2 separate regions of the Homo sapiens genome follow, and region 1 is linked to region 2. A link means that fine-mapping ties the variant in region 2 to the plasma level of a protein whose gene starts in the linked region. Region 2 holds a variant in brackets. A gene starts in the other region. All regions are shown on their forward strands.

Region 1 (16,445 bases), not on the chromosome of region 2:
TTCAGAACACAGGTTTTTGCCTAACCCCTGGCATGATTGCCCATAAGAACATACATGTACAGTTGAACTGGTGGTTAGCTATACGGGAAATGGTAAGTAGTGTTGTCTTCAGTATCTTAATTTGTTTCTGCAACTGTGCACTCCTCCCTTGGTGGCACCCTATGGGTGTAGGAAAACCACTGTTATTAAACAGGTGAAAAATACCTTGTGTAAAATTGCTGTCTCTATGCTAGCTTTGTCAAGAATATCCATTGTAAGATTTTTACCTCTATTGTAAAGTGGAGATTGACTCTTGCCAAGGATTTTTAGCCAGGAACAAGAGGCCTCAAACCACACTATTTAGATCAGTAGATATTTACTAAGTGCCCAGTACTGTGCTAGTTACTAAGATCACAGTTAAGAATGAAACACCCCGTCTGTCTTTATGGAGCTACCTAACATTGTCTATGGCCACCATGATAGTAAATTTAAACTTTATGGCGTACATGTGTATGAGGGAGGTTGATGGGGAAGCAGCAGGAACATCTGTTCAAAGAGATCATTCAACTCCCAGGCTGCTCGAAACTTATTCATAGGAGATAAGACAGAAAAGCTGTCTTTCTGAGACGTAGAGCCTGCCCTCTGCTTGGATTGTCCAGCTCACCAGACTGAGAATTCCCACCGCCATTCCTCTGTGCCATCTTCTGCTCAAGGTGGGTTTTTGCCTGCTTGCTTCTCTGTCCTTTGTCCCCTAGATGTATCCTAGCAATGAATGAGAGATGTGTTTCTATTTTTTTCATAGCAACCTACTAGATAAGGGAAGCTTGTCCAGCCTGCAGCCCAGGACGGCTTTGAATGTGGCCCAACACAAATTCGTAAACTTAAATTTTATTTTTGAGATTTTTTTTTTAAGCTCATCACTATCATTAGTATATTTTATGTGTGGCCCAAGACAATTCTTCCAACGTGGCCCAGGGAAGCCAAAAGATTGGACACCCCTAAGATAAGAGATATCTTTCTATAGAAAGTTATTCTATGATCAAATGTTTATTATGGATACATTAGAAAGTAGAAGGAAGAAAGAGGCTGGGTGTGGTGGCTCTTGCCTGTAATCCCAGCTACTTGGGGGGCTGAGGTGGGAGACTCGCTTGAACCTGGGAGATCAAGACTGCAGTGAGCTGGGATCACATCACTGCACTCCATCCAGGGTGACAGAGCAAAACCCCATCTCAAAAACAAAAAAGGAAAAAATCACTCCTAGTTCCCCCTAGAAAAAATAGCATTGTTTACATTTTAAAGATCTCTTCCAATATTACATCTCTTCATAACTTGTTTTAAGTGCAATATATTTCTTTATGTTATAAATAAAGTTTTGGTGCTGCAAAAGAAATAGCACTCAAATATAACATTTTATTTTTTTCTTCTCAGCAAGGCAGTTTACTTCTATAGAAGGGGGCGCCCTCACAGATGGAGCAATGGTGAGCGCACACTTGGACAAGGGAGGAAAAGGGGGTCTTATTCCTGACACATGTGGCCCCTGCTGCTCTGTTGTTCTCCTATTGGCTAGGGTTAGACCGCACAGGCTAAACTAATTCCGACTGGCTAATTTAAAGAGACTGATAGGGTGAGTGGTTTGGCGGGAAAAATGGTTGTGGAGAATGAGCAGGTAATTGGAATGAGTCAGGGTGGAGCAGGTAATCAGAAAAGGTTGCTTTACGAGGAAGTTAAGTTTAAAAGTAGAAGGCAAAGAATTGAACATACATATTGACTCTTTGAAGAGAAATTTAGAACTCATATCTAACATTTACATGTTCTATATCCATGTGATCATTTTATGACTGTGCTCTCGGTCCCACAGCCGTGAAGAGGATGCCCTGCAGACTCACTGCCCACCGGCTCCCTCCCCCGCATCCCTGCAACCCCAGAGGCGAAGATGGCCTCAGGAGTGCAAGTAGCTGATGAAGTATGTCGCATTTTTTATGACATGAAAGTTCGTAAATGCTCCACACCAGAAGAAATCAAGAAAAGAAAGAAGGCTGTCATTTTTTGTCTCGGTGCAGACGAAAAGTGCATCATTGTAGAAGAAGGCAAAGAGATCTTGGTTGGAGATGTTGGTGTAACCATAACTGGTCCTTTCAAGCATTTTGTGGGAATGCTTCCTGAAAAAGATTGTCGCTGTGCTTTGTATGATGCAAGCTTTGAAACAAAAGAATCCAGTACAGAAGAGTTGATTTTTTTTTTGTAGGCATGAGAACTAGCACCTCTGAAAAGTAAAATGATCTGTGCAACATCCAAGGATGCAATGAAAAAGAAATTTCAAGGCATTTTATCAGTGTGTAGTGGAGTGAAAAACTTGTTTTTATTGGTTGATATCAGAATAATTCTTCAGAAGGCAACTTGGTAGTCTAGGGGAAAAATATGCTTTCACTAAGTGGGAAAGGTGACATCTCAAGGGCATGATATGGAGTGAGAATCTAGGACAGAGAAAGGATCAGCATGCATAGGATAACAGGATGATTCATCACTGAAATAATCAGCAGAACCAACTCAGGCCAAGGTTAGGAGGAGAAACATAGGCACCTCCCTCATGCCACTTTGCTATCCTACCCCAGGCAGAGTAATCTCAGGAAGACTGGGAAGGTAATGAATCTCTCACTGTCTAGCAAAGGTGAATCACTTATTTGCATCACAAAAGTCACCTATTTGCATGTGAAAAGGCAAGGTGATCCTAGCTGACATCTGGGTTACATCAGGTAATAACCCTGTTAACAATAAAATATTGCAATCCTTTTCTCTAATGTAGATTTCACTGTACTGAAAGGCTTTTGGAAGCAAAAGTAACAAGATGGCCATTAGATATGAATGGCAGTCTTAGCTTGAATGTATTTGTAAAAATTTTATTCTGATTCTTTTAGAACACCTTGAACTTGCTTTTATTTTTATTGAGAATTTCAAACACAAAAGTAAAAGAGTACAGTGAACCTGCATGACTCTATCATCCAGATTCAACAATGACCAATTTATAGTCACTATTGTTTCATCTAGACCTAATCATTTGCCCTCTACTTTTTGGGGAAAGCAAATTCCAGTCATAATAATATTTCTTTCTTAAATATTTACTTTTGTAACTCTACAAGATGAGGACTTATTTTAAAATGTAGCTACAATACCATTATCAGATCTACAAAAACAAAACAACCTCACAGCCCTAATGTCATCAATCTATCAGTCTGTTTAAATTTCCAATTGCTTCATAATTTTTTCCCACATTTGGTTTGATTTAAGATTCAAATAATCAGAACAGAATGAAGAGTTGGTTAAAAAAATTATATATATATATCTCCAAATAAGTTTCATATCTTACACACACCAATTGTTTAAATGGTTTTTAAGGCTCTTCTAAAAGACATTTAGAAGACATTTAGATGTTGAGTCCACCCCCCAGACTCAAGCAATCCTCCCACCTGAAGCCTCCAGGGGAGTTGGGACTACAGGTGCGTGCCACCATGCCTGGCTAATTTTTGTATTTTTTTGTAGAGACAGGGTTTTACCATGTTGCCCAGGCTGATCTTGAACTCCTGGGTTCAAGTGATCCACTCGTCTTGGCCTCCTAAAGTATTGGGATTACAGATGTGAGCCACTGCATCCGGCCAGGCCTTTCCATTTTCATTTTTTTTTCCCTTGCAAATTATCTGTTGAAGAAATCATTGTTTGTCACTTAGATCTTCTCATGGTCTAGATTTTCTACTTGTATCCCTGAGCTGTATTTTAACATGTTTCTCTGTCTTCTATACTTCCTATAAATAGGTAAGTAGATCTTAAAACTTCATCAGAGTGAGGTTTGATTATTTTGGACAAAACTACTTTTATAGATGATCATATTTGTTATCTTGCTGCATAATGAATTACCCCTGAAACTTACAGGCTTAAAGCCACAATAAACATCTCTAACACTGCACAGTGTCTGTAGGTCTGGAAATGAGGAGTGGCCTAGCTGAGTGGTTTTGGCTTTAGCTCTCTCAGGAGGTAGTTGGTGCTGCTGTCATCTGAAGGCTGGACTGTGGCATGAGGAACCCCCACTTCCAAGATGGCTCACTTACATGACTGACAGTGTGGTACAAGCTCTTTGGCAGGAGGTCTCTGCTTCTCACCATATGGATCTCTCTTTAGCACTGCTTGCTTCTCCCAGAGTAAGTGATCCAAGAGAGCAAGGTTATACAATGTGTTGTGTGACCTACATGATATTTGCACACTGTCATTGCACAATACTTTATTGGTTACACAGTCAGCCTTATTTGATGTTGGAGGGGATTCACAAGGACATGTACACCAGGAGGTAAGGCTCACTGGGAGCTATTTGGAGGCCAGTCACCATAGTGTTCTCCCATTAAGAGGTACGTAATATTGTTTTGTCTCTTTGTGATGGTAGCAACCATTGATGCTCAATGCCTAAGTCCACCAATTCATTCGATGTTGAAAAATGGTTATATTCTATTATTCCCTTTTCACTTATTAACTGAAATACTTCTAAAAATAGAGCTAAAAGCACAAGAAGGCAAGAGAAATTTGCCCGTCTCTGCTATTTGGTAACCGAGCAGTTCAGTTTGTATAGAAAAGTCAGTATAAATGCTTGATTCTGTCCTTTTATTTGCCAGTTTTAAAAATAGATTTGGTTTCCTAGCATCATCTATTGATAAGTAGACTTAAAAAATACGTTATGAGGCGGGGCGCGGTGGTTCACGCCTGTAATCCCACCCCTTTGGGAGGCTGAGGGGAGGATTGCTTAAGGCCAGAAGTTCGCGACTGGCCCTGGCAACACAGTGAAACCCTGTCTCTAAGAAAAAACTAAAAAAATTAGCTGGGTATAGGGGTATATGCCTGTAGTCCCAGCTACTTGGAGGCTCAGGAGGGAGGATTGCTTGAGCTTAGGAGTTTAAGGTTGCAGTGAGCTGTGATCATGCCACTGCCCTCCAGCCTGGGTGAAAGAGGTAGATCCTGTCTCACAAAACGATAAATACATATAATGTTATGAGCTTATGGATTTAAATATATTAAAGTATTTCAACTTATTGCAGTTACTATCTTATTAATGTTCACATAGTTATGGAGATAGGCTAAATAATGGCAAAAAATGTTCACCTTCTAATCACTGGAAGCTGTGAATATTACCTTACATGGCAAAAGGAATTTTGCAGATGTGATTAAATTGAGGATTTTAACTCGGATTGTGCTGAATTACCCAGCTGGGTCCATTGTAATCACTGGGGTCCCTATAAGAAGGAGGCATGAAATCAGAGCAGAAGGTGATGAAATGGGCTGGGTGCAGTGGCTCAGGCATGTAATCCCAGCACTTTGGGAGGAGGAGGCAGGTGGATCACATGGTCAGGAGTTCAAGACCAGCCTAACCAATAAGGTGAAACCCCGTCTATACTAAAAATACAAAAAGTAGCTGGGCGTGGTGGTGCGTGCCTGTAGTCCCAGCTACTCAGGAGGCTGAGGCAGGAGAATCACTTGAACCCGGGAGGCAGAGATTGCAGTGAGCTGAGATCGCATCACTGCACTCCAAGCTTGGCGACACAGGGAGACTCCACCTCAAAAAAAAAAAAAGAAGAAGGTGATGGGATGATGGAAGCAGAGATTGCAGAGACTGAAGCGATGCATTTTGAAGATGGAGAAATACAAGGATTGTAGCTCTAAAAGCTGAAAAAAGCAGGGAGACAGATTCTTCCCCTTAGTCTCCAGAAGGAACCACCTCTGTTGACACCTTGACTTTAGTACAGTGAAACTGATTTCAGACTTCAGACCGCCAGAACTGTAAGAGAATATATTTACAGTTTTTTGTTTGTTTTTTGAGATGGAGTCCTGCTGTGTCTTCCAGACTGGAGTGTGGTGGTGCAATCTCTCGGTTCACTACAACCTCTGCCTCCTGGGTTCAAGCAATTCTCCTGCGTCAGCCTCCCGAGTAGCTGGGATTATAGATGCCCACCACCATGCTTGGCTCATTTCTTGTATTTTTAGTAGAGATGGGGTTTCACCATGTTGGCCAGGTTGGTCTTGAACTCCTGACCTCAGGTGATCTGCCCGCTTTGGCCTCCCAAAGTGCTGGGATTACAGGCATGAGCCACTGTGCCCAGCCTATGTTGTTTTAAGCCACAAAATCTTTTGGCAATTTGTTACAGCCATTATAGGAAACTAGAAACACCTATCTTTGCTCAGTGGAACCGTCTTCAAATTGGTTATCTAATATAACAAAGTGTTTTAGGCTCATTTTGTACATTTTCTACCCCAGACTCCAAGGAGTCCTGGTTGCTTATAGTGGGAAATGGTATTTTGAGACCACTAAGGGTGTTCATGGGTGGTTGTCTTTTTTTTTTCCATCTTTTAAATTTATTTTAAAATTGTGTTTTTTAAAGAATTTACCATCTTACCCAGTTTTAAGCATAGAGTTCAGTGGTGTTAACTATATTCACCTTGTTGTGCAACAGATCTCTAGAACTCTTTCATCTTGTCAGCTTGAGACTCTATGCCCATTGAACAACTCCCCATTTCCCCCTCCTCCCTTGGACTTTTGCCTTTTTGAAAATGGCAGGGCCAAGAGCCACGGCTCAAACCTGTGGTCCCAGCTGAGCCCAGGAATTTGAGGCTGCAGTGTGTTATAATCACACCTAAGAATAGCCATTGCACCCCAGCATGGGCAACACAGTGAGACTTTATCTCTAAAAAAATGGAAAAAATCACACTTCTGTTGTAAAATATTTTTACCAACGTATGATTATTTTCTTCTTAAGTGTGCAGATTTTTAGGCCAAAACTCCATGCCATTTTTGGCTGCTAACCCTAAGCTATATCCTGTAAAGGATTTCAAGTAGCAAGATATCTAAAGGAATAGCTGTCTTTCTAAAATGGAGTGAGAGTTTTGAAATGAAATACATGTCATAACAAAAGGATGACATTTCATTATTAGGACTCAAAATGTTCTCTTGAGCTCTAGCTTGTTGTAGGTGAATACATTATTAAGACTGGTGGAGTCCCTGCCCACAGCACAGAATTACAGCTAGTGTCCCCTGTTTGGGGTCTTATCTGGCCCTGTTCTGTCCTGTAACTAAACCTGCTGCTGAAAAGAAATAGTTTCCATGAGACTGTTTACTTCAGATCTATAGGTGCAGCTCTCTGGGCCATGATAATTTGATTTGTTGTTGTTATTGTTGTTTTTTGAGATGGAGTCTCGCTCTGTCTCCCAGGCTGGAGTGCAGTGACATAATCTTGGCTCACTGCAAACTCCACCTCCTCGGTTCAAGCAATTCTCTTGCCTCAGCCTCCTGAGTAGCTGGGACTACAGGCACTTGCCACCATGCCTAGCTAATTTTTGTATTTTTAGTAGAGACAGGGTTTCACTATGTCGGTCAAGCTGGTTTCAAACTCCTGACCTCAGGTGATCCGCCCACCTTGACCTCCCAAAGTGCTGGGATTTACAGAGGTGAGCCACTGCGCCTGGCCTGTTTGTTTGTTTTTGAGACCGAGTCTCACTCTGTTGCCCAGGCTGGAGTGTAGTGGCCCAATCTTGGCTCACTGCAACCTCTGCCTCCTGGGTTCAAGCGATTCTCCTGCCTCAGCCTCCCGAGTAGCTGGGATTACAGGTGTGTGCCACCATGCCTGGCTAATTTTTATATTTTTAGTAGAGACGGAATTTCACCATGTTGGCCAGGCTGGTCTTGAACTCCTGACCTCAAGTGATCCACCCACCTTGGTATCCCAAAATGCTGGGATGACAGGCATGAGCCACCGTGCCCAGCTGAGAATTTGTTTTATAAAGCAGGAGGCCCCATCCTCTGGGGGCCGTGGACCAGTACCAGTCCATGGCCTGTTAGGAATCTGGTTGTGGCTTGTTAGGAAGTGGGCTGCACAGCTGGAGGTTAACAGCAGGTGAGCGAGCATTACCACCTGAGCTCCAGCTCCTGTCAGACCAGCAGCAGCATTAGATTCCCATGGGAGCAGGAACCTTGTTATGAAGTATACAAGCGAGGGATCTAGGTTGCGTGCTCCCTATAAGAATCTAATGCCTGATGTTCTGAGGTGGAACAGTTTCACCCTGAAACCATCCCTCCCCATCCCCTCAGTCCGTGGAAAAATTGTCTTCCATGAAACTGATCCCTGAGGCCAAAAATGTTGGGGACTGCTGTTATACAGAGCTGTAGGAGAGAAGAATAATGCAGAGGGAAAAGGAGTGCCTGTCTGTTGAGACTTTCAGGGGGACCTAGGGACTGGTTTTGTTACAGTTGACTGGGAATTGTCTTGTTTATTTTATTTTATTTTTCATTTAAAAAATTTTTTTGAAATGGAGTCTTGCTCTGTTGCCCAGGCTGGAGAGCAGTGGTGCCATCTTGGCTCACTGCAACCTCTGCCTCCCAGATAAAGTGAAGCTCCTGCCTCAGCCTCCTGAATAGCTGGGATTACAGGCATGCACTACCACACCTGGCTAATTTTTGTATTTTTAGTAGAGATGTGTTTCATCATGTCAGCCAGGCTGGTCTTGAACTCCTGACCTCAAGTGATCCACCTGCCTCAGCCTCCCAAAATACTGAGATTACAGGCATGAGCCACCGTGCCTGGCCAAAGTGTCTTGTTTTATTTTTAAGTCTTTGATCACTCTCATTTACAGTAAGTGTTTGAAGAGTACATTCTAAATCATTTTTCTCTCTTCCTTTACAGGAAGTGCTCAAATGTTGAGCACACACACACAAAAAAAGAGGAAACAGTTGGATAGGAACTCAGAAATCATGTGACTGATGACTAAGTTAAATCTTTTCTGCTTACTGAAAAGGAAGAGTCTGATGATTAGTTACTGATCCTCTTTGCATTTGTAAAGCTTTGGAGATATTGAATCATGTTACCATTTCTGTTTTTTTCCACCCTGTTTTCTTCCATATTTACTGAAGCTCAGAAGCAGTATTGGGTCTGCAACTCATCCGATGCAAGTATTTCATACACCTACTGTGGTAAGTAAAACCGCAAAACAAATAATTGTAGCATCAACTATTTTGAGGGTAAGTTTTCACGAGAACCGTACACTGTTGTGGCTGGAACACACGAAACATCAGTGTGTTCCAGCTGCTGTGGCGGACGCTGCCAGCAGGAAAAGCAATAGCTGGCAGCTGCCCCATGAGAATGTTCTCGACCACTCACAGAGCTTGTGAGTCTCTAAACTGTGTTGTGCTTGACCTCCAAGTGCTTCTGTTCCCTGCGTCATCTTTCTCTACCCTGAGCCCAGTTTTTGGTTCTGCCCATTTTTAATAAAACCATCTGCTTCTGAGCTTTCACCTCAGCCTTGACACTTACTAGTTCTTCTTCTTGAGATGGTAGAGCAGTCCCAGCTGCTTCCTGGAGTTGATTTCTGCTCTAAGCTGTGACTCTTGAGTGCTCTTGGAATCATCCCCCTCACTGGATGAAAGCCTGGTTCTGTCACTAGCTGTGTGACCTTAAGCAAAGTACTCCAGCCTTTTTAGCACTGAAGTGAAAGTGATTTTATAGTCTACTTGATAAGGGTGTTGTGAGGTGAAGTTTTTTAGCATAGGGTCACATAGAGACAATAATACTCTTAATTTTTTTTTGGAGTCAGCCATACCCTAATACTATTCACTGGCTGTGTCACTGTCCCCTGCCCCAGCTGCTCATTAGCAAGTGTCCTGGGATCTGAAGGCACAGTGTCAGGCCTGACAGCTGTTTTGGTTCGGTACTTTCCACCGTGCTGCTTACCATGGGTTGGCTGCCCTTTTCCACCCACTAGCAATAGCTGGGAGGTTTAAAGTGGTGCTTCCCAAAATACCAGTTCTTTGAGATTCTTTTGGGAAAATAGGATCTATGACCTAATCATCTGGGAGAGATTTACAGATGTACTTTGGGTTCTGAGAAGTTCTGCAATAAAGGCACCTGTTTAACCACATTTTCAATTTCATTTGTTGTTTGTTTGTTTGTGTTTTAGTCTGGAGTGTATGTTAACTCTCTTGAGAAACATGCTCTGCCAAATGCTAATATAAAGTGACTTTCGGGAAATTGGGATAATTGCCACATGTGAGGAGGAGACTTAGGAGTGTGGCCAGTCACACACCATGGCCCTTCTCCTGGTGGGTTGCACTGAATTCCCTCCAAACGTATGTCTAAAATCTCTCCATGCTGCAAGATCCTTTTGCATTCCCCTCTTCCAGCAAGGCTCCTACTCTACTTGGCCCCCACTTCCCTCTCCTCCTTTGGCTCTTTTGTACCATGTGCTAATTATGCCACTGTGTGTGTGTGTGTGTGTGTGTGTGTGTGTGTGTGTGTGACAGAGTTTTGCTCTGTTGCCAGGCTGGAGTGCAGTGGCGCGATTTCGGCTCACTGCAACCTCTGCCTCCCAAGTTCAAACGATTCCCATGCCTCAGCCTCCTGAGTAGCTGGGACTACAGGTGTGCGCCACCACACCCGGCTAATTTTTTTTTTTTTTGTATTTTAGTAGAGACAGGGTTTCATCATGTTGACCAGGATGGTCTCAATGTCCTGATCTTGTGATCTGCCCACCCCGGCCTCCCAAAGTGCTGGGATTACAGGCGTGTGCCACCTTGCCCGGTTTATGCCACTCTTTATATGGTTTTTATGGATGTAACATTTTGTATTATTATTTAGCTTTCAATCTTTTCTTAACAATAACTCAATTTGTCTTTTTAAAACATTTCACATTTTATCTTATTTTATCATTTATTTTTGAGACAGGGTTTTGCTCTGTTGTGCAGGCTGGAGTGAGTGGCATGATCTCCACTCACTGCAACCTCCACCTCCCTGGCTCAAGCCATCCTCCCAGCTCAGCCTTCCAAGTAGCTGGGACTACAGGCACATGCCACCACACTTGTCTAATTATTAATTAAATAATTTTTTTTGAGTTTCACTCTTGTTGCCCAGGCTGGAGTGCAATGGCATGATCTTGGCTCACTGCAACGACCGCCTCCTGGGTTCAAGTGATTCTCCTGCCTCAGCCTCCCGAGTAGCTGGGATTATAGGTGCCCACCACCACACCCAGCTAATTTTTGTATTTTTAGTAGAGACAGGGTTTTGCCATGTTGACCAGGCTGGCCTCCAACTCCTGACCTCAGGTGATCCGCCCACCTTGGCCTCCCAAAGTGTTGGGATTACAGGCGTGAGCCACCGCAGCTGGCCTAATTATTAATTTTTTTGTAGAGATGGAGTCTTGCTATATTGCCCAGGCTGGTCTGGAACTCCTGGGCTCAAGTGATTCTCCCACCTTGGCCTCCCAAAGTGCTGGGATTACAGATATGAGCCACTGCACCTGGCCTAAAATTTCACATTTTAATCATTTTTGAGTGTTTAGCTCAATTGTATTAAGTATATGCACATTGCTGTGAAACCATCACCGTTGGTGTATCTTTTGATTTGACTTTCTAGTTTTTTTTTTTACTTTGAGACAGTCTCATTCTGTCATCTAGGCTGGAGTGCAGTAGTACGATCTCAGCTCACTGCAACCTCTGCCTCCTGGGTTCAAGCGATTCTTTTGCCTCAGCCTCCTAAATAGCTGAGATTACAGATATGCACCACCATGCCTGGCTAATTTGATTTGACTTTATGAAGGAGGATCTTCCTTCCTTCTCTCTGAGAAACCCTGTGGTCCTTTCCTGCTGCCCCACTGACAAAGGGACTGTGGGCAAGCCACTGGAATACACATCTACAGCAAGATGTTGCTTGTTGCCATCCCCACTGCCATATGACTGCCTTCCCGGCCTGAGAGAATCCATCCTGCCCAGCCAAAAATGCATCACCTGTGGGAAGCACTGATTCCTCTAGGTACCATTGTGAGGGTGTTGGTGACAACAACCTCTGATTCACTGTGATGATTTCCATGAAAAAGAAGAGATAGATTTCCATTTGGTCAAGCTGCTGGGCATCTAAGTGTATGTTTTTTTAAACACAGAGTCTTGCTCTGTCAGCCAGGCTGGAGTGCAACGGTGGAATCATGGCTCACTGCAGCCTCAAACTCTGAGGTTCAAGTGATTTTCCCGCTTCAGCCTCCCAAGTAGCTGGGACTACAGGCGTGCACCACCATGTCTGGCTAATTTTTAAGTTTTTTGTAGTGATGGGGTTTTGCCATGTTGTCCATGCTGGTTTTGAACTCCTGGTCTCAAGCAATCTTCCTGCCTCAGCTTCCCAAAGTGCTGGGATTACAGGCCTGAGCCACTGATTCCGGGCTACAGTGTCTTAATTAGTTCAGGTGCCATAACAAAATACCACAGACTGGATGGCTCAAACAACAAAAACCTATTTTTTCACAGTTCTGGAGGCTAGAAGTCCAAGATCAAGGTGTCTGCATAATTGGGTTCTCCTGAGGCCTCTCTCCTTGGCTTACTGCTGTGTTTTGAATTTTGTGTCCTTGCAAACTCATGTTGAAATTTAATTGCCATTGTGATGATATTAAGAGGTGGGACTTTTAAGAGGTGATTAAGCCATGAAGGCTCTTCTCTCATGAATAAATTAATGTCATTATTGAGGGAGTGAGTTTCTCATAAAAAGACAAGTTTAGCCCCCTTATGTCTCCTGCTTTTGCCCCCTCTTGCCCTTCTGCTCTTCCACCATGGGATGAGACAGCAAGAACGCCCTTGTCAGATACCAGCACCTTCACATGGAACTTACCAGCCTCCGGAACTGTGAGAAATAAATTTCTGTTCTTTATTAAGTACCCAGACACCAATAATCTGTTATAGCAGCACAAAGTGGACTAAGACACTCGCAGCTGGCTGCTTTCTCACTGTGTCCTCACATGGCCTTTCCTCTGTGTGTGCACATCCCTGGCGTTTCTTTGTGTGTCCAAATTTCCTCTTCTTATAAGGACACCAACAAGATTGGATTAGGGCCCATCCTAACAGCCTCATTTTAACTTAATTACCTCTTTAAAGGCACTGTCTCCAAATGCAGTCATATTCTGAGGTACTGGAGCCTTAACATGTGAATGGGGACGAGAGGAATGAGGACACATTTCTGTCGGTCCATAACATACAAAAATGGCAAAAATTGACTGATTTATTCTCCCAGTTTTGGAAAAGGCAAAAAATGTGGGTGTGTGAGTTGGTTCCTAGGATCTTAGGCACATGCTTTCCTATGATCCTGAGTCATTGGTCTCAGTTCTAATCTTTATTTTTTTTTTGCTACAGATGGTTAGAAAATCCAAGGAATTAATAGATTATTTAGTGAAACCAATATTCTCTGAGCATTTAGCATGCACTTACTCTAGGAACTGAGGAGATAAGTGAATTAACAACAAAGACAAAAGTCCCTGCCCTTATGGATTCAGTAAAATATTCAGCATGTCAGATGGTGGTAATTGCTGTGAAAGAAAAATAAGGCTGGGGGATGCGGGGTAGAGGGTGCAAAGATGCAAAAATGGAGAAGCTAGGGGGTTGCATTTTAAATCAGGATGGCCAGCCAGATGTGATGGCACTCACCAGTAGTATAGCCCAGCTACTCAGGAGGCTGAGGCAGGAGAATAGCTTGAGCCCAGGAGGTCAAGGCTGCAGTGAGCCATGTTTGTGCCACTGCACTCCAGTCTGGGCAACAGAGCAAGACTGAACCTAGCTAATTTTTAAATTTTTTGTAGAGACAGTGTCTTGCTGTGCTGCCCAGGCCAGTCCCAACCCCTGGGCTCAAGCAGTTCTCCTGCCTTGGCCTTCCAAAGTGCTGGAATTACATGCATGAGCCACCACGCTAGGCCTAAAACCTGTTTCTTTTCCTTCCTTCCTTCCTTCCTTCCTTCCTTCCTTCCTTCCTTCCTTCCTTCATTCCTTTCTTTCTTTCTTTCTTTCTTTCTTTCTTTCTTTCTTTCTTTCTTTCTTTCTTTCTTTCTTTCTTTTTCTGAGACAGAGTCTTGCTGTGTCACTGAGGCTGGAGTGCAGCACGATCTCAGCTCATTGCAACCTCCCAGGTTCAAGCGATTTTCGTGCCTCGGCCTCCCAAGTAGCTGGGACTACAGCCATGCATCACCATGCCTGGCTATTTTTTTCTGTTTTTAGTAGAGACGGGGTTTCACCATGTTGGTCAGGCTGGTCTTGAACTCCTGACCTCAAATGATCCACCCACCTTGGCCTCCTAAAGTGCTGGAATTACAGGCGTGAGCCACTGCGCCTGGTCCCGGCTAATTTTTGTATTTTTTGGGGGATGGGATTTATTTTTTTGAGATGGGGTCTTGCTCTGTTGCCCAGGCTGGAGTGCAGTGGTGCAATCTTGGCTCACAGCAGTCTCTGCCTCCTGGGTTGAAGTGATTCTCCTGCCTCAGCCTTCTGAGTAGCAGGGATTACAGGCCTGCGCCACCACACCCGGCTAATTTTTGTGTTTTTAGTAGAGACGGGGTTTCACCATGTTGGTCAGGCTGGTCTCGAACTTCTGACCTCAGACAATCCACCCGCCTGGGCCTCCCAAAGTGCTGGGATTACAGGCATAAGCCACCATGCCTGGTCTGTATTTTTTTAGTAGAGACCAGGCTGATCTTGAACTCCTGATTTTAGGCGATCAGCCTGCCTTGGCCTCCCAACGTGTCGGGATTACAGGCATGAGCCACCGTGTCCGGCCTTAAACCTGTTTCTGTCTAAGTCTTCTCCATCTCATCATCCACCTAATTCCTTAGGCCCCAAACCAGAAGTATCCTTAAGTATCTCTTTCCCTCACCTATTACATTATTGTATTAGTCATTCCTGTTTTCATGATCTCCAGATTCTATTCTATATCCAAGTGCTTCTCACTGCTCTCTAACACTCATGCCACATTTGTCTCTCCTTGGCCTCTACAAAAACCTCTTAAATTGCCCTCCCTCTGCTTCAGTTCTTGCCACCATACAATCTATTCTTGACACAGAGGCCAGAGAGATCTTTGCAAAATGAAAATAAGTTAGATAATGTGACCCCTCCTGCTGAAAATCCTCCAGTAGCTTTCACTACAATTAGAGTGAAATCTCAACTTTATACCAAGACCTCCAGGACTCCTCAGGATCTTGAAGCAATACTAAGACTACCTAGAATTACAGTCTAATTAGGGGGTCCTTCCCACAAGTTTTCCTCCCACATCAGATGCCATGTGCAAGCCCTAGGCTGACACCTGTGGTTCTCACTGGCTATAAATTGGAGGTTCCCCTTTCTTGGGTTTGATCATTGTTAGACTAACTCTCAGAACACAAGGAAACACTCATTTATGTTTACTGGTTTATTATAAAGGATATTATTAATACAAAGGATACAGACGAATAGCCAGATGAAAGAGATATATAAGGTAAGGTGCAGGATAAGGGGACCAGAGTGTCCATGTCCTCTCTGGGTGCACCATCCTCCTAGCATCTCCATGTGTTCACCAACCCAGAAGCTCTCCTAAACCTGTCGTCCAGAAATTTTTATGGGGTGTTCATCATGTAGGCATAATCGAATGTTAACTCTGTCTGTAGCCCTTCTCCCCTTCCTGCAGGATGGGAGGTGGGGCTAAAAGTTCCAAGCTTCTCATCATGGCTTGGTCTTTCTCATAACTGGCCCTTATCCAGGAACCCACCAAAAGTTACCATTAGAAAAAAAGATGCTGCTATTGCCCAGGACAGTCTAAGGAACTAGAAGCTCTGGGCAAGAAATTGGGATCAAAAACCAAATGTTAGGACCAAAAATTCTCTTACCACTCCCATTGTTCTGTAAACTACAAGGGTTTTAGGATCTCTGTGCCATAAACTGGGGCAGAGACAAAATATATGTTTCTTATTATATCACAGTATCACAAATTCTGTACACATTTTATAGTTTTTTTTTTCTAGTTCTGTAAAAAATGTCACTGGTGCCAGGCATGGTGTCTCATGCCTATAATCCTAGTGCTTTGAGAGGCTGAAGTGAGAGGATCACTTGAGGCCAGGAGTTCAAGACCAGCCTAAGCAACATAGTGAGGCCCCATCTCTACAAAAAAATGAAGAAAAAAAAATTCACTGGGTGTGGTGGCATGCACCTGTAGTACTAGCGACTCAGGAGACTGAGGTGGGAGGATCTCTTGAGCCCAGGAGTTTGAGGTTGCCCTGAGCTATGATTGTGCCACTACACTTTATCCTGGGTGACAGAGTGAAATCCTGTCTCTTCTCTCTCAAAAAAAAGGAAAAATGCCATTAGGATTTTGATAGAGATTGCTTCAAATCTGGATCTGTAGGACACTTTGAATGGTGTGAACATTTTAGCAACATTGTCTTCCAATCTATGAGCAAGGGATATCTTTCTGTTTCTTTTTGTCCTGTTAATGTCTTTGATCAATTTATTTTATTGTTTTTACTATAAAAGTTTTTAACTTCCTTAGTGAAGTTTATTGTATTCCTCCTGGTACTATTGTAAATTTGATTGTTTTTCTAATTTCTTTTCCAGATAGCTTGTTATAATTTTTTTTTTTTTGAGGCCAAGTCTTGCTCTGTTGCCCAGGCTGGAATGC
Region 2 (16,445 bases):
GGAGTTGGGACTAATAACTATCCTTTAAAAAAATAAAATTCCTTTCTCACATCCTACACAAAATATTAATTCCATATAGTTTAAAGATTTATAGAGCAAACTGTATAAAATTAGAATAAAATATAAGCATTTAAAAATAGCTTTATTGAGATATAATTCACATACCATCCAAGTCACACATTTAAAGTGTACTATTCAATGGCTTTTAGTATATTCGCTGTTATACAACCACCACCACAATTGGTTTTAGAACATTTCCATCACTCCCCTGAAAAAATCATTTTCCCCCCACATTACTTCTCTAGCCCCAGGCAATCATTAGTCTACTTTCCTGCTCATAGATTTGCCTATTCTGGACATTTCATACAAATGAAAACATATATGTGGTATTTTTGTGATTGGCTTGTTTCATTTATCATAATGTTCTCTAGGTTCATCCATGTTGTAGCATATCTCAGTACTCCTGTTTATTGCCAAATTGTGTTTCATTATATGGATACACCACATTTTATTTATTTATTCATTAGTGTAAGGAATTTGAGGGTTGTGTCCATTTTTTTGGTTATTAAGAATATTGCTGTTATGAACATTTGTGTACAATATTTGTGTGTGTTCACGTGAAGATTTGGTTTTATTTCTCTTGGGGATTTATGTAGGAGTGGAATTGCTGGGTCCTATGGTAACTCTATGTTTATTCTTTTAAGAAATTGCTAGACTCTTCCCAAAATGGCTGTACTGTTTTGCAGCAGTGTATAAAGGTTCCAATTTCGCTACTTGTTATTATATAACCTATTTTTACAAGTAAAATTTATTTTTATTTTTTACAGGTTTTATTTTGTTTCTAATTAACACATAAGAGTTGTACATATTTATGTGGTACAGTGTGATATTTTGATACATACATTGTGTAGTGATCAAATCAGGGTAATTAGCATATCTAGCATCTCAAACATTTGTCATTTCTTTGTGGTGAGATCATTCAAAATCCTCTCTTCTAGCTATTTTGAAGTATACAGTACATTACTATTCACTATAGTCACCCTACTATGCAATAGAATACCAGAACTTATTTCTCCTATCTAATCACAACTTTAAACCTGTTGGCCAACCTCTCCCCATTATCTTCTCTCCACTACTCTCTCCTCAGCCTCTGGTAACCACTATTCTACTCTCTACTTCTGTAAGATCAGCTTTTTAAGATTTCACATATGAGGGAGATCATGCAGTATTTGGCCTTCTGTGCTTAGCCTATTTCCCTGAACATGATGTCGTTCAGGTCCATCCATGTGGTCCCAAATGACTGGATTTCATTCTTTTTATGGCTGAATAGTATCCCATTGTATATGGACATCGTGTTTTCTTTATCCATTCATCCATTGATGGACACTTAGGTTGATTCCATATCTTGGCTATTGTGAATAGTGCTGCAATGAATACAGGAGTGCAGATATCTCTTCAGCATACTTATTTCATTTCCCTTGAATATATACCCAGTAGTGGGATTGCTGGATCATATCATAGTTCCATTTTTAATTTTTTGAGGACTGTTATCCATAATGACTGTACTAACTTACATTTCCACAGACAGTGTACAAGGTTTTCCCTTTAACCACATCCTTGCCAACATCTATCATTCTGTCTTTTTGATAAAAGCCATTCTAACTGGGATAAGATGGTATCTCATGGTGGTTTTGATTCACATTTCTTTGGTGATTAGTAATGTTGAGTATTTTTCCATATACCTTCTAGGCATTTGTATATCTTCTTTTGAGAAATGTCTATTCAAATCACTTGCCCATTTTAAAATCATATTATTTGTTTTTTTTTTTTTTTGCTATTGCGTTCTTTGAGTTTCTTACATATTCTGGATATTAACTCCTTGTGAGATGCATAGTTTGCAAATATTTTTCCCATTATGTAGATTGTCTTTTCACTCTGTTGATAGTTTCTTTTGCTATGCAGCTTTTTAGTTTGATGCAATTCCATTTGTCTATTTTTGCTTTTGTTGCCTGTGCTTTAGAGATCTTAGTTTAAAAAGTCCTTGCCCAGACGAATGTCATGCGGTACTTTTCTTCTGTTTTCTTCTAGTAGCTTCAGTTACAGGTCTCACATTTAAGTCTTTAATCTGTTTTGAGTTGATTTTTGCAAGTGGTGAGAGATAAGGTTCTAGTTTCATTCTTCTGCATAAGGATATCCAGTTTTCCCAGCACCATTCATTGAAGATGCTGTTATCTGACCTTTTGATTATAGTCATCTTCATGGGTGTGTAGAGGTATTTCCTTGCTGTTTTGATTTACATTTCCCTGATGGATAATGATGTTGAGCATCTTTTCATATAAGTATTGGCCATTTGCATATTTGCTCTGGAGAAATATTTATTTTATCCTTTGACATTTTTTTTCTAATTATGGGGTGGGAAAGACCTTGCTAGGCAACACATGAAACTCAGATGTCTTAAAGGAAAAATATTGAAAGATTCAACCACATGAAAAGTGTAAACATCTTTATTTTCAAAGACAACATTAACACAATTAAATAAAAATCATTTTTCCATAGAGAAGAAAATATATGAAACACATATAGCAAGAGTCAATATTTGTAATATATAAAGAAGCCCTACAAATCAATAAGAAAAAAAATCAAACAACTCAAAGCAAACTGGGCAAAGGGTAAGAATGAGCATTTCACAGAAGGGCAAACATCCAGTACACATATGGAACAGTGCCCAACTATTCTTTAGACCTGGGACTACAAGTTATAGCAATAAGAAATTACACATTTTTCCACCACCAGCTTGGCAAACTTTTAATAAATCAATAATACATACAGTATTAGTAGTGGGTGTGAGGAAATAGGAATCTGAGACACCTGGCTGGCATGTACACAATTACAACCCTCTTGAAGGTTCTGACAGGATCTATTCACATTGAATTCATAGGAGAAATCTCACAGTAGTAAAATTGTAGATGGCTTTTGCTTTGTGTGTTTGTGTACTTTTAGAGCATTCTGTATTAAGTATGTTTCAGTTTTTTAGATGGGTTGTAGAATGTCATTTAAAAATCAAAAAGGAACCGGAGATAATCTGTTTCCTGGGAATGTCCAGATGAAAGGATTGTAGGAACATAGACATAGAAATGGTTAAGATGAGGGTATCTGGTTCCCACCTAGGTGCAAATAGTCACAGCACAATGGCTCCCTCTCCAAGAATCAGCCTCTATAAAGGGGAACCTATAAAGGAGAATGCAGAATCCAGGAAACAAAACCACAACCATCACCAGCACCACACACACGCGTGCACACACACACACACACACACACAAACACACACACGCCAGCAAAGAAAAAAAAATAGAAATATCCAGGGAAACTGAAAGGTACTTTGAACTGGTATTTTGGTAAAAACCTGAATGAAAGGTGATTGATAGTGACAATGAGAGGTTAAATGAGAGAAAAGTGGTTTAAGATCTGATCTTGCCTTTTCCCTACATTACATTAGGGCAAGCATTGTGTACCTCTTACGGCAGATTTTGGAGACAGTGGCCGTGCAGTTTGAGCAGGTATCTGTAGGGGTATTGTCTGGGCAATGCACCTACTCCTCTGGAGGAGGTAGTTGGGGAAGACAGGTTGGGACAAGCTCAGCTGCATATTCTATCTTCTTCCTCTCTCACCCTAGGCTAGTGGTTTCTATCCAGAGAGATTGTTCTTTCCACCAACCTTTGGCCTGAGGAGTTGCTTTGAAGTATGATGGTAAACAAGTGTCTCAATGTCTTGGCCCCATGACTACAGTGTGGCCTTCCCTTCTCTACTATGTATTTTAAGACAGTAACTGAGACCCTTGGAGAATACGTGCCCAAATAACCCTGAGGGAATGCCACCACCTCAAGAGTAAAACCGCATTACTTCTGAAGTAGGAATATTAGAAAACTGGATTGAAAATTTAAAATAAGCTAAACACATTTACAGAAATGGAGCACCATATATGTAATACTATGAAATGACAATTTTAAAAATTTTAAAAGTACCCGGTAGAATTATTACATAAGAGAAATATAATAGTTGAAATAAAGAACATGATACACAAATAAATAATAGTATGAATACAGCCGGAGAACAAATTAATGAATTGGAAGATCAGATTGAGGAAGCTTTCCAGAAGGTGATAGGAAAGGATAAAGGAATAGAACATACACAAAAAAAGTTAAAGAAGATAGAGTATGCAAGTGTTAACATCCAGATAATAAGAGTCCCAGAAGAAGATAAAAGCATAAGAATTAAGAAGATAAAAATATATAGAAAGTATTTGATAAAATAATAGAGAAATGTTTGCCAGAATTAAAAAATAAATAATATGAGATTAAATGGATCAATAAAGTGCAATAAAGTGCAAACAGGAGAAAGAAGGAAAATCTCACTCCTGAATACACTACAGTAAAATATAAGAATATGAAAGAAGAGAACATTTTAAAAGCTTCTTTAGAGAAAGGACTGAACAACTACAAAGGTGCAAGAGCTGTATTGACATCAGACTTCTGAATAGCAGCAGCAGAGTAAAAAAGACAATGGATTAATATTTTTTAAATATTGAAGGAAAACCTTTGAATTAAGACTTTTGTATATACCCAAATTGTCATTTGAATGACATAATAAAAATATTCCCAGTTATACATGGGCTCAGATGACCAGCTGCAAAAGACGCACACTGAAGATACTTTTTGAAGTATCTTTTAAGAAAAGAGCTAAATTCTAGAGCTACTGCAAGATATTTTAGATTCAAAGGTGGTGAAAAATCTTGTTAAACTTATATGTCTATTTGTAGTTATAAGAACAAGGAAAAGAAAAAAAGTATACATCCATGTACTACTTACATGGATGAATCCATACATTTTGGATGAAACATTATTTAGAATGAAAAAAAGAAACTTCAGAAGGTTCTGGCCCTCAGCTCTAATCCCACAAGTTTGAAAACAAATAAAACTAAAGAATTATGTTTTAAAATACATATATACATATATAAGTTTAAATGAGTTTTTTTTTAAAAAAGCAAGAGAATGATAAGGAGATGGGGCCAGGCAACAGGATTGGGGAGGAAAATAGGTAGTTGTAAATTGTCTGTAATGTTCTGTTTCTTGAGATGGGTGGTGGTCTGTGGGTGTTTATTTTCTTAAAAATAAACAAATACATATATAAGAAATAAAGGAAATCCACATGTGAACTAATGATGATGAATCATGGAGCAGACACTGTAACTCTGCACCTGAAGTCCATAAGAAGAAAAGGTAAAGGAAATGTAAGACAATCGCATTTATTTGTTTTCTTGAAGTTGCAAACTATTCATAACCAGTGTCAGGAGCTTCTGCATGAATTTCACCTGGAGCAGGAATGGGTCCAAAGGTTCACATGTGTCCCTGGCAGGGCACTTCACATTAGATGCCTTGAGTTACAAGGAGGGGTGTGGACACACAGTCAAAGAGAGGCAGGGTGGAGGGTGATCAATACATAAGTTTTAAGGTCAGAGAGCCTGGTTTCAACATCTAGCCCTGCCACTTTCCAGGGGAACAGCTGTGGATGAATTATTTAACCCGTCTGAGCATGATACAATGATATATGTACACAATGCCTTGCCTGATAAAACGATAAATGATCATGTTGCAAAATGCTTGGCACATAGCATGTGCTCAAAAGGATTAGCAAAACATAATGAGAATGAGGACTAGTATAATAAAATAAGAAAGAAGAAATAAGAAGCACTTCTAAAAAAAATCCCGAGAGATTTGAGTTGGGTTCTTTGACCGAAGATTGCTGTTAGATTCTACAATCCTGTAATAGTTCATCAACCTCCATCACTTGCCTTTGGTTTTGTTTTGTTTATTTCTTAGTTTCCTAGTAAACATTTTGAGAAAGTCCAATCTTATTTTAGCTAAGTGAAGGGGGAAAGGGACTTGGCTGGAAGAGCAAAGAGGAAGCTCTTACATTCCTGGGGAAGGCTGCCGCCCAGGCCTCCTAGGAGGAGATAAGCCAGGCGAAAGGAGTTAGGGATGCAGGACTGGGAAGGGAATCTCACGTTTGTTGTCTTTCCAGAGTCAAGTACCACATGTAGTGTTCTGGCAAAGGGCAGAGCAAGGTTGGGTAAGGTCGCATTCAGTCTTAAAACCTCAAGACTCTGCACCCTAGGTGAAGTCAAGGTCTTCTAGGTAGCAATGAGTGAAGAGAACTCAGGGAAGCCCCATGCTAGCAGTTTACAAGTCCACCTTCCACCATCTTGCTCAAGAGGGTTGCAAATGGCCATCCCTTTGCAGGTCTTCCCAGCAAGAGACTACTTTCCCAGCCTAGGCTCTGAATCCTCTAAGGTCTTCTGCCTTCTCTGGATCCCCTAGAGGTCTGATCTGGGCCACTTTCCCCACCAGGCCCCCAGGCCTCTGCTTTAGTTACCGGTAAGGACACAGAGGTACAGAGATGCATGTCATCAACTTCCCTGCCTTCTGGAAGCCAGTGACTCTGGGCCTTGAGGTCATGTAGGCCTCTGTGGATCCCCAGGCTCTCTCTGCAGTCTTTGCTGGGGTTTCTGGGAGTTTCCCGGATTGTCTCCAGTTTGCCTGTAATGCGCCCTCTTCCTCTCCATCCTGCTGCCCCTCCAGCTCCCTTCCGGCAAACCCTTGGGAAGGTGCCAGAGTT[C/T]CCTCTCCCAGCGTGCAAAAGCTCCTGTTGCTAAGGCACTGGTCCTGGCGGCAGCTGGCAGGACATATGGACAACCTCACAGTGTGATTGGTCATGGGATGGGTGGAGGCCCCAAAAGATGTCTTTTGATAGCTGATGGTCTTGGTCTCAAGTTGACTCCTTGGTGTCATCTGAATCTTCGTTTAGTTCAATGCTTCATCTTTTGTCTTCCTGCTTCCCTGAAATAAGGAATGACAAACAATCCTAGAACTGGAGCCACATGTCCCCAAATGCGTGTGGCTCAGCATTGGCCATGTTTTTCCAATTATTCCTTGCTCTGAATGCCACAGCTAATATGCGCGTGCACACTCACACACATACCCAGGGCAATTTTTAGCCAGAAATTCAGGCTCCTCTTTTCCCAGAACCCTTTGGCCCTTCAAGACCTTGCCCCACCCAGCCCCTCCATCCCTGCTCTACACCCTCTGCAGCCCCTGGCCCTTGGGCTCACCCCTGCCCTGGGAAAGTCACTCTCTCAAGACAAGATGTCCTGGTTTATGTGTTGCCCAGCACGCCTTCTCACCCGCCTGGGGATTTCTAAATCCTACCCATTCTTGAGATCCGGGGTGAGGCTGTCCACCATGACAGCTTCCCAAGGTCTGGCACCCACGCCCATCTCCCTGAAGGAGCAACTCCCAGCCTTATTGAATTAAGAATACCTACCATAAATCTTAACAAATATTTCAGGCTGATCACAAAAGGAAAGTATGTTCATTGGAAATACAGATAAACAAAATAAAGAAAATATAACCTGCCCCATTTCCTCTACTTAGGGTTAACCACCATTCACATCTTAGTGAAGGTCTAAAATGAAGGTTTTTTCCTGCACACACACACGCACACACCCTTGCTGTTTTAAAGAAAGCGAATTAGACTCATACTTACATATGGCTTTATAACTGTGTTTTTTCACTCAACAGTGTGTTGTGAGCAGCTTTCCACAAATAATCCCTTTTTTAATGTCAAAAGATTTCATGAATGACCACATAAGAAAGAGCATTTATACTTTTAAAGAAACATTTTATTATGGAAAATGTCAAACATACAAAAGTTGAGACAAGAGTATAATAATCCCCCAAATACTCATCATCCAGCTTCAATAATTATTAACATTCTCTCCTTCCAGTTTCATCCACCCCTGCCTTTTTTCCCTCGAGTATTTTAAATAAAAGGCCAGATATTGTTTTATGTCCCTGTAAACAACAATTGTCTTTATAAGGTCTGCTGCTTGAGAAAATGCATAGCAACCCAAAGGGAGTCTGCATTCAGGACCACTTTCAAATGAATCTGCATTTTATTTGTGACAGCAGCATTGATGATTTGAAAAATAGTCCCACATATACGTGCAAGTTGTATTATTTATTCAGCCTTCGGTCGATGCTTGTAGGGCATATGGATGTACAGATCTCTTGCAAGAGCTCCAGCCCACAAGCCAGGCACTGCTGGTCTGATCCACTAACTCAGGCATTCAATCAAACTCTCTCTTGCATTTTTCGCCAGTTGGTTCACACATGTGAGTTTCCTCTCCTAACTCCACCACTCCACCCTTAAATCCCAACGCCTGGGATCATGTCGGCTTCTCTCCTGCACACAAGGTTGTAAGTATCAAACTAAATTCTGGCCATAAAGTTGCTTCAAGTGAGGAGTCTCATTCTACATTGAGGAAACTGAGGCCGCAGAGGAGGAAGGATTTCTTTAGGAGCAGAGATGGAATTGTAGGTCTCCTATCTCTTAGCCTTTCCTTTCCACCTTAATCCACTGCCTTGTGGGCAGAATTTCACAGAATGTACAGGATATGGGGGGAGTGTGACCTTGAGAACGGCATATTCAGCATCTTCACTGAATTACTGCTGCCCTGGCTTCTTGTTGGGACTCCAGGGAGGTTTGGGGCCTGAATCTGGCTGCTCACCTCCCTTCCTTCCAGGTTTCCTGCCAAGGGAATCACAGCATAAGGATAAAATCCAAAAGGGAAACACAGTAGTAGCTCAATCTCTGATGAGTGCCCAGTATCTCCCTGAAGCAGGACTTCTCTGATAAGCTGGGCTGGCCCCAGAGACCCTTTCCTGGAAGCCCAAGGGATGTTTCCTGTCCCCAAGTCCCTAACATCCACGTCTCCACCTAGCTATAGGCTGGAAATGTCCCATCCACCTACCCACAGGCAAACAGAGAAAGACATGGCTGCTTTTGTGTCTGGGAGGTGTGACACAGCACAGTAAGCGAGAGTGGGCAGGAAGGTGGTCGTGCCTGCCTGGGAAGGCTGAGTCCCAGGAAGTGAGAGGGAAAGGAAGGTGGTATCTGAGTGAGCCCACTCTCAGAAAGCCTGGTCAAGGGAGCATTCTGCTCTGACTAGAGCAACGCGTTTCTCAAGGACCAGATAGGAGGAAGATGAGGAGGAGGTTCATGATCATTCCCCCTGCCATGCCCAAGGTTGGAGAGAAGCTAGGAGGACTTCCCTCCCTTTGTGAGTCAAGCTGAGCTGTAGAGGTAAGCATCCTGGCTCTTCTCCAGAATATTGAAAGATTTAATGTTTACTATTCTGACCATAATCTGTAGTTACTTTGTTAAAACTGAGATAGACTGATGTCTTTGTGAGCCACTGTACTGTTTGTATGTTATAATTACACACTAAATTGTGCTATAGAAAGTCTACATATTTATTCCTCATTTCCATTTTTCTGCCCGAAGTTTTAGATTTAAAAACTAATTTTCTTCTCTCACCCTCCCTCCATCTCTCCCTTCCTTCCTTCTATCGACCTGCAACTTTTAGAGACCTGCTAGGGGTCAGATTGTTTGCTTACGCCCAGGGCTTTTGTAGTTCAGAGGCTCCCACATTCAGAGTGAGACAGCTGGACTGAGGCAGTGAGAAGGAGAGGGCCCTGGGGGAAGAGCAAAGGTACAGTTGTATAGGAATGGTCAGCCATGAGACACACCCTTGACTCCACGTGTCCTCATTCCTGCCACTAAAGAATAAAAATCCCAGTCAGTTACAACGGCAGCAATCGAAATCCAGCTTCTGATGTGAGATCTCACCAGGGCCCCCAGAGGTTCAACCAAAGGGAGGAGGCACAGGGCAAAGCCCAGGCAGAGATTCCTCACGCTCCTCCCCCGACTGCCATTAAGAAGATTCTTTTATAAGAAGATCAATCTAACCTTCAGAAATTGAGGGAAAGATAGACCATCCAGTGGCACATTGTGTGATTCAGGTTCTTAGTCAAAAGGAGCTTAGAAGCCTGGGAGCCTCCCCAGAAGAGGTCAGAGGTGATCTGTGAGATGAATATGAGTCCTGAACAAGCTGAGGATAAACCACGAGGAGAAGAGAGAGTGCTTCGGGGAGGGGAGAATGCAGACAAAGTTTGGGAGGTAGGAAGGAGCCCAGCCTGCTCTGGAGATGGAGAGGAGCCAGGCCTGGGTAGAAGGCAGGTGTGTAAGCCCCGAGGAGAGAGTGATGGATAGGCTGGTGAGGAAACAGCAGATTTCAGGGGCCTGCATCAGATGCATTTGTAGGACACTCTCTTGGAATTTTTCTGGAGAGGTAGGGAATCTGGGTCTGCGTGTATTTTTAGCCTGTCTTTTCTGCCCTCTTCTGAGCAATGATTCTAAGAGCTTTCAGCCTGAGGTCATCTGTTTTCCTAGTGCCTGTTCCAGGGAAGCAGATGCCAGCACCACTACCTCACACAGAGGCTGCTGCCGCCCCAGCGCTGACCCCAGGAGAGCGACGTGTCCACTGCACCACGGGAGCAGGCTGTAGGAGGCTGCCCCATGGGAGGCTCCACAGTCCCGAGCTCTGCCAGAATGTCACCCTTCTGTTCTGGCATGACCCTAGAGGAGAGTTTCTTTGAGGTCCATGGGAAGCCCCAGATGCCTGTCCCCATTTCCTTCAGGGCCAATATGGGCACCCCTCAGGCTGGAAGGCTGTGGAAGGACGCGGGTTGTGGGATCCAGCCCTCAGGATTGCAAATGTCTGCCTCAACCTTGTTTCCCGGGAATTCTGCCCTTCCTGTCTGTCTTGTTACCTTCCAGCTCCCTGCCTCTCCATCGCCATTTCCTACCTCTCTGCCAGCAAAGCAGGGGCAGGTTATTTTCTAAGACTCTGCTTTCTCCATTTAGGAATCTATAGTGCACACAACGGCTCCTAGAGGAGAGTTCATTTGCTCCCTCGCTACAACCCAGTCTAAAGCTTCTTTTCTGTGCTCTAGGTTCATGTTTTCAAGTCCTCAGTGGACATGACTACTGGAGAATCATGACCCAAAACAATTCACAGTCTTCCCTCCAGAATGTAACTCCTTTCGGCCATCTTGTTTATGTCAGGGATGCCTCCAGTCTCCTCCCAGGCTGAGCCCCTGGGACATGGCTCCTCTTCTTTACCTCCCACATCCAGTTAGGCAGCAAAATGGGTCCATCCTTTCTCAGCACCACTTTTCCATTTCTGCCACATCTACCATTTCAATCCCAGCTCTCCTTGTTGCTTGGCAGGATGACCCCCACAGCCCCCAAGTGGTACCTTCCCTGAAACCCCTTCTTACCCTGCCCCTCTGCAATGCCACTGCCACCCCTTCACAAGTCTTCTGTTACCTCTTTTCTTGTCTCATCAAATCTCAAGTCTTTGCTCTGGCTGCAAGGTCTTTACCTGGTTCCCCGCTTCTGCCCAGCTTTAGCTTCTCTTCCCCTCCTCCTCTCTTCCACTCCTGTCATTCTGAGTCGCTCACCATCCCTGAAACATATCTAGCTTATTCCCCTTAGGGGATCTCTGTCCTGTGGATCCCCCACCTTCCTCCCTTCTCTCCACTGTATGTCAGATCCCTAGCAAGGATTTAATTAGCCAAAGGCAAACTCAAATTTCCTTCTCAAAGTTTACAAACATTCCTGCCTGGAACTGTCCTCAGATACAGCTTCTAAGTCACAGAAGAAAATTCTTCTCATTGCTAAAATATTTTAGCCATTATTTTTATTTTTGCCAGAGTGGTATTACTCAGTTTGGTGACCCAGGCTTATTAATATGATTCTGCTGAAAAACATAGAACAAGACATGAGCAGACATGGAAGAGATTTGTTGGGGGAAATGGCTGTGAGGAATAAAAGAGAAGGAGCTAGAGAAGGGGAGCACAGCCTTCAGATGGCACTGCATGTTGGACTCCTATGGAGGAGAGAAGGAAGAAAGAAGGGCTGGGGAGGAAGAGTCTGAGACTGCAGTGCAGTTCTAAGAAAATTTCATCCATGATGTGGAGTCGGACGGGGAGTGCCTGAGCCAGTCACCTCGCTGTGGTTGGTCACTGGCCAGAGTAGCCCTTGGGAAGCAGGGCCTTGGCACAAGTGATATGGCAGATCTATAAGGACAGCAGCAGGAGCCACCTGTCCATCTGCTCATCACAGCAGGAGTTCCAACAGGGCATTCTCATGGCAGCCACACAACACTTGGTTTCTGCTGCTGAATGAAGATTTGAATGAGGACGCAAACTCCAAATCATTCCAAGGTTGAAGAATTAAATCCAAAAATATGTATTCCTAAAGAGAATTCCCTGAGAGAAGGCAATTTATCTTCATTATCACATCAAGGCTGTGTCACCATCATTACCGCCATCTCCACCATCATCATACTATAACCACCTTAACCATCATCATTACCATCATCATCACCGTATCATCGCCATTCCTCCCATAATCACCACTATCACCTAACCACATCATCACCACTACCATGACCACTATTATTGCCATCAACACTACCACCACCAGCAGGATCATCACCATCATCACCACCACCATTACCACCATCATCGCCATTACCATTGCCATTTCCACCACCATCACCACCAATATTATCATCACTATTTCCATCATCATCATCATCATCACCACCACCATCACCATCATGACCACTACCATTATCATCAGCCACCAGTACTATCACCATTATTACCACCATTATCATTATGAAGTCAGAGAGTATGGTATGGAGAAAAAGAATCTGATTGCAAGGCTTAACACCTGGGCTTTGATCCCATCTCTGCTGCTGATTTGCTGTGTGGCATTGGACAATTCTCTCCATCTCTGTGAATCTTCATTTTATTTTTCTGTTTAGCAAATAATTACAGTGCATCTGCTGAGCCAGGCTCTCCTATCTGGAGGAGTGAGTAGGCCTACTGTAAGTCTGACCAGCTGCCAACTCTGAGGCCAAACAATCAATGGCATTGCATGACATTGACCACACCTAAGGTTTTATGAAAACAGTGGTCATGGTAGCTGCACAACGGGATGTGACCTTGCCCTGTTTAGAATACCCAAGGGCAATAAAAGCAATTTTATATCTTTTCCAGTTCCTGTGGGGAGCAATAAATGCATCACTAAACTCAAAGACCTCAGGAATGAGGAGAAAATTCACTGGAGAACTTGGGCTCAAGCTTTAGCTCATACCTATTAAGGCCTAGGTAGGGTAAGGCCTCCCACACTGGTCGCATGACATATTGTGGCCGAGCTAGGCTGTTGATTCTCAGCCGCCAAGTGTTTCCTGGAGCTGCTGGAGGAGGATGGTGGCTGGGTGGGACCTGTCTGGGATGGGGACAGGAATGTTGCTAGAGTACAGCTCAAGGGTGAAATGAAGGCCATAGGCCCTGGGTGATGACAGAGGCAGCTGCCGCAAGCCAGAGTCCCAGCCACATCTGGGCTTCTGATTGCACAATCCAGCTGTTGGCTGGGCCTGCTGACTCCCCAGTGGGATGGGCTGGCTGGGAGACTGGAGGAGGGTGGGCTAGAGGCCTTGGGAAAATTCAGCACCTGCAGATGAGTCTGGTGAGTCCCTCTTCCTTTCGGAGAGTGCCCTGGCTGAGGATGAAAGTGGGTGGGTGGGGGTCGAAGGATCTTTTTCTGTTCTCAGTATCCCTTTATCCTGCTCTCTGTTACCCCATGTTCCTAAAAAGGGAATTTCCACAGTTCCCTTCCCACCATCCTGGGGATTGGGCAGGGGCGGAGGGTGAACTGAGGGGCAAAGGAGAGATGGAAATTCCCTTAAAGTTGGCAATAGTTGGGGGTGCCATGTGCAGGACTGAAACTACTAATCTGTGGCTTCAAGTTTGTTCCAGGAAGGATGCATTCTTAGCACCCCCCAACCTGAGATCCTTTGTACCCAAGGGTCCCCTGTTCCCTGGAACCTGAAAGAGGTTCTTGAGCTGTTTACTCTCTTGCGCTGTCTACTGTGCATAGGCTGTCTACTCTCTCATTAATCTGTGTCCCTCATCTGACCTCTCCCCATGCAGATGTTAAGGCTGGGACCCAGCAAGAGACAGAGTCCTGAGCCCTCCCTAAAGTCAAGAGCCATGTCTCGCTTTGGGAAAGGAGTTCCCCCATGCTTCCCCCACAAAGCTGGGGTTCCTGGGGGATTGGGTGCAGAGTGCCCCAGGAAGGGAGGAGTTGGGGAGGGGGATTCCTTATTCTCCATGATCAGCAGGAGTGAGGCTCTGTGAGGAATAGAACACCACAGCTAATTTTGGCACTCTATTTTTTTTTTTTTTGAGAACTGGCACAAAACAGAAAATACAATATTTCCTCAATTTTAAGACTTGACTGATTGTGAGAAGCCCTACTGATGTAATAACATGTTTTTATTTTGGTTTGTATTTTTCCTTTGGTGATGGGGTGGAGAGACTTGAGGTGAGAGTGGGCGTGAATTGCCTGACAAGAACTCAAGCCCCTCTTCCTGTATCAGCAAAATTTGGGGCTTTCCAAGATGAAGCCAGAATTCTAACTGTCCAGGTTTCTTCTTGTAATTGTGGCTTGAGTGGAGGTGAGATGGTTGGATGAGAAAGTAAAGTAATTCCCCTCCTTTCCACAACCCCATTCCTAACACACTTCCCATTCCCATTCAAGGGACACATTCTCTGAGGGCCAGAGGGACCTTAAAATACACCTCCAAGTTATGTTCAGATACATTTAGGGGAAGGGACCCCAGAATTCCTGCCCCCAAAGAAATAATCCCATCTCAGGGCCACCTCAGCAGTTAAAGATTTCTTCTTCATGTGGAACTAAAATAGACCTCTCGGTACTTCTGGGTTTGAGTTCTACCCTAGGGAGCACAAAGCATAAGTTATATATTTTTAATAAAATGGCAAGTATTCTTAGACCTTTTCTTCTTTTGATGAAATTTTCATGCCCCATTTCTTCTGTTTGAAACATGGATTTCAGATTCCTCCCCATCTCGCTGCCCCTTCTATTTGTCAATATCCTGTTTAAAGGATTGAAGCCACAACTTAGCGCCATGTATCAGAGATGGCGTGGTACCCATGGGGCCCTTCCTAAATGATGACATGGTGCATTTTTTCATTCCAAGACTGCAAGTATTTTTGTGTCTGTCTGTTTTCCACTGAGCTTATAGTCAATCAAAATTCTTAGGCCCTTTACAAACTGAAATAGTCTTCTATGTCCTGGCAATTTGTATTTGGTTATTTTCCTGGACCTTAATATAGGATTTTGTACTAAACCTACATTTTAAAATACTTAGTTTTGCTAGATGCACCTTATCATCTCAACCAGAGTATTAGTTTCCTATAGCCGCTGTAAAAAAATTACAACACACAACACAAATGTATTATCTTGTAGCCCTGCATATCAGAAGTCAAAAATGGATTTCACTGGGCTAAAATCTAGGCCTAGGCAGGGCTGCGTTCCTCTGGAGGCTCTAAGAGACAACCAATTTCCTTGTCTTCTTTAGTTTCTAGAGGTTGCTAGCATCCATTGGCTCAAGACCCTTTCCTCCATCTTTAAAGTCAGTAGCACAATATCTTCAAACCTCTCTCCTACTCTGCTTCTACCCTCACATCTCCTTCTGTAACTATTCAAAAGATTCTTTCTTTCTTTTTCTTTTTTTTTTTTCCATTGACCAGCCACAGCAGTATCAAAGGATTCTTGTGATTACATTGGGCCCACCCAGATAATCCAGGATCATTTTCCCTTCTCAAGATGCTTGACATAATCATACTTGCAAAGTCCCTTTTACCATGAAGGGTAACATATCCTTAGATTCCAGGGATTAGGACATGGACAATTTTGAGAGGGCCATTATTCTGCCTACCAACCAGTTAAGATATTTTGGCTCCTGATTGTAGAGTCTAATGTACTAATTATTTCTGTTAACAGTTACAGCATCTGTCAAATTGATTTGCGTCCAGCCATTATTCTCATGCAAACTACTGATGAAAATGTTGAGGAAGGCAGGAACCAGTATAGTCTTCAGGTTGACACTGGTTCATTAACAAACACTCTTGGATTATGATCATTCGTACAGTTAAGAGTCCACAGATAGACTACATTTCCCCCTGATTTCTTCCTTCTTTTTCTCCTACCTTCCTTCCCTTCTTTATTTTCTTTTCATAAATCCAATTTATATAAGCACTGCACCAAATTACAGAATATAGGAGGGGACAAACTAGAAACAGTCTCTTCCTCATTGGGTCTTATAGTATATTGGTGAAGAAATATTATTAAACAATTACTCTAGCTAAGGTTTGATTTGGCAGTGCCTACTGGAGATGCAACTTCAGTGCCTTAAAGAAAAAACTATTTCTCTTTGCCCATGAGAGAAGCCTAAGGTAGGCAGCCCACAGTTAGTAGAGCAGTGCATGAAGTCATAAGAAATCCACACTATTTGGATCTTTCTGCTTCACTACCCTGGCTTCCATTCTCAGGGACACCTCATATTCCAAGATCAATGCTGAAGCTCCAATCATTTCACCCTTTTCAAGTAT

Direction of the effects. Alleles are on the strand shown, and positions count from the first base shown. The strength of an association depends on the size of the effect and on how common the allele is.
In carriers of allele C in region 2, the plasma level of the protein whose gene starts at base 8,812 in region 1 tends to be higher than with T alone (weak association).

Evidence for each region. PIP is the chance, under the fine-mapping model, that this variant and not a neighbour inherited with it causes the effect. Protein levels are from antibody-based Olink assays in UK Biobank. Linkage for the fine-mapping came from a reference panel and not from the study's own genotypes, which makes the PIPs less certain.
Region 1: it holds the start of LY96, and the variant in region 2 is fine-mapped to the plasma level of the LY96 protein (UK Biobank, PIP above 0.99).

Annotation. Positions count from the first base shown.
Region 1 is chr8:73,982,581-73,999,025 of GRCh38, forward strand. LY96 (lymphocyte antigen 96) reads left to right here and starts at 8,812. Exons shown (of 5, transcript NM_015364.5): 1 at 8,812-8,974. The coding sequence starts at 8,863. It overlaps TMEM70 (transmembrane protein 70), which reads left to right. Exons shown (of 3, transcript NM_017866.6): 3 at 1-203. It also overlaps the pseudogene DSTNP3. RefSeq lists enhancers at 2,380-2,962, 9,054-9,153, 9,524-9,593 and a silencer at 2,460-2,660.
Region 2 is chr2:71,821,035-71,837,479 of GRCh38, forward strand. No RefSeq gene overlaps it. Among named protein-coding and RNA genes, the nearest start is that of CYP26B1, 320 kb to the right of the region's middle. RefSeq lists an enhancer at 9,167-10,366. The variant C/T (reference allele first, on the strand shown) is at 6,673.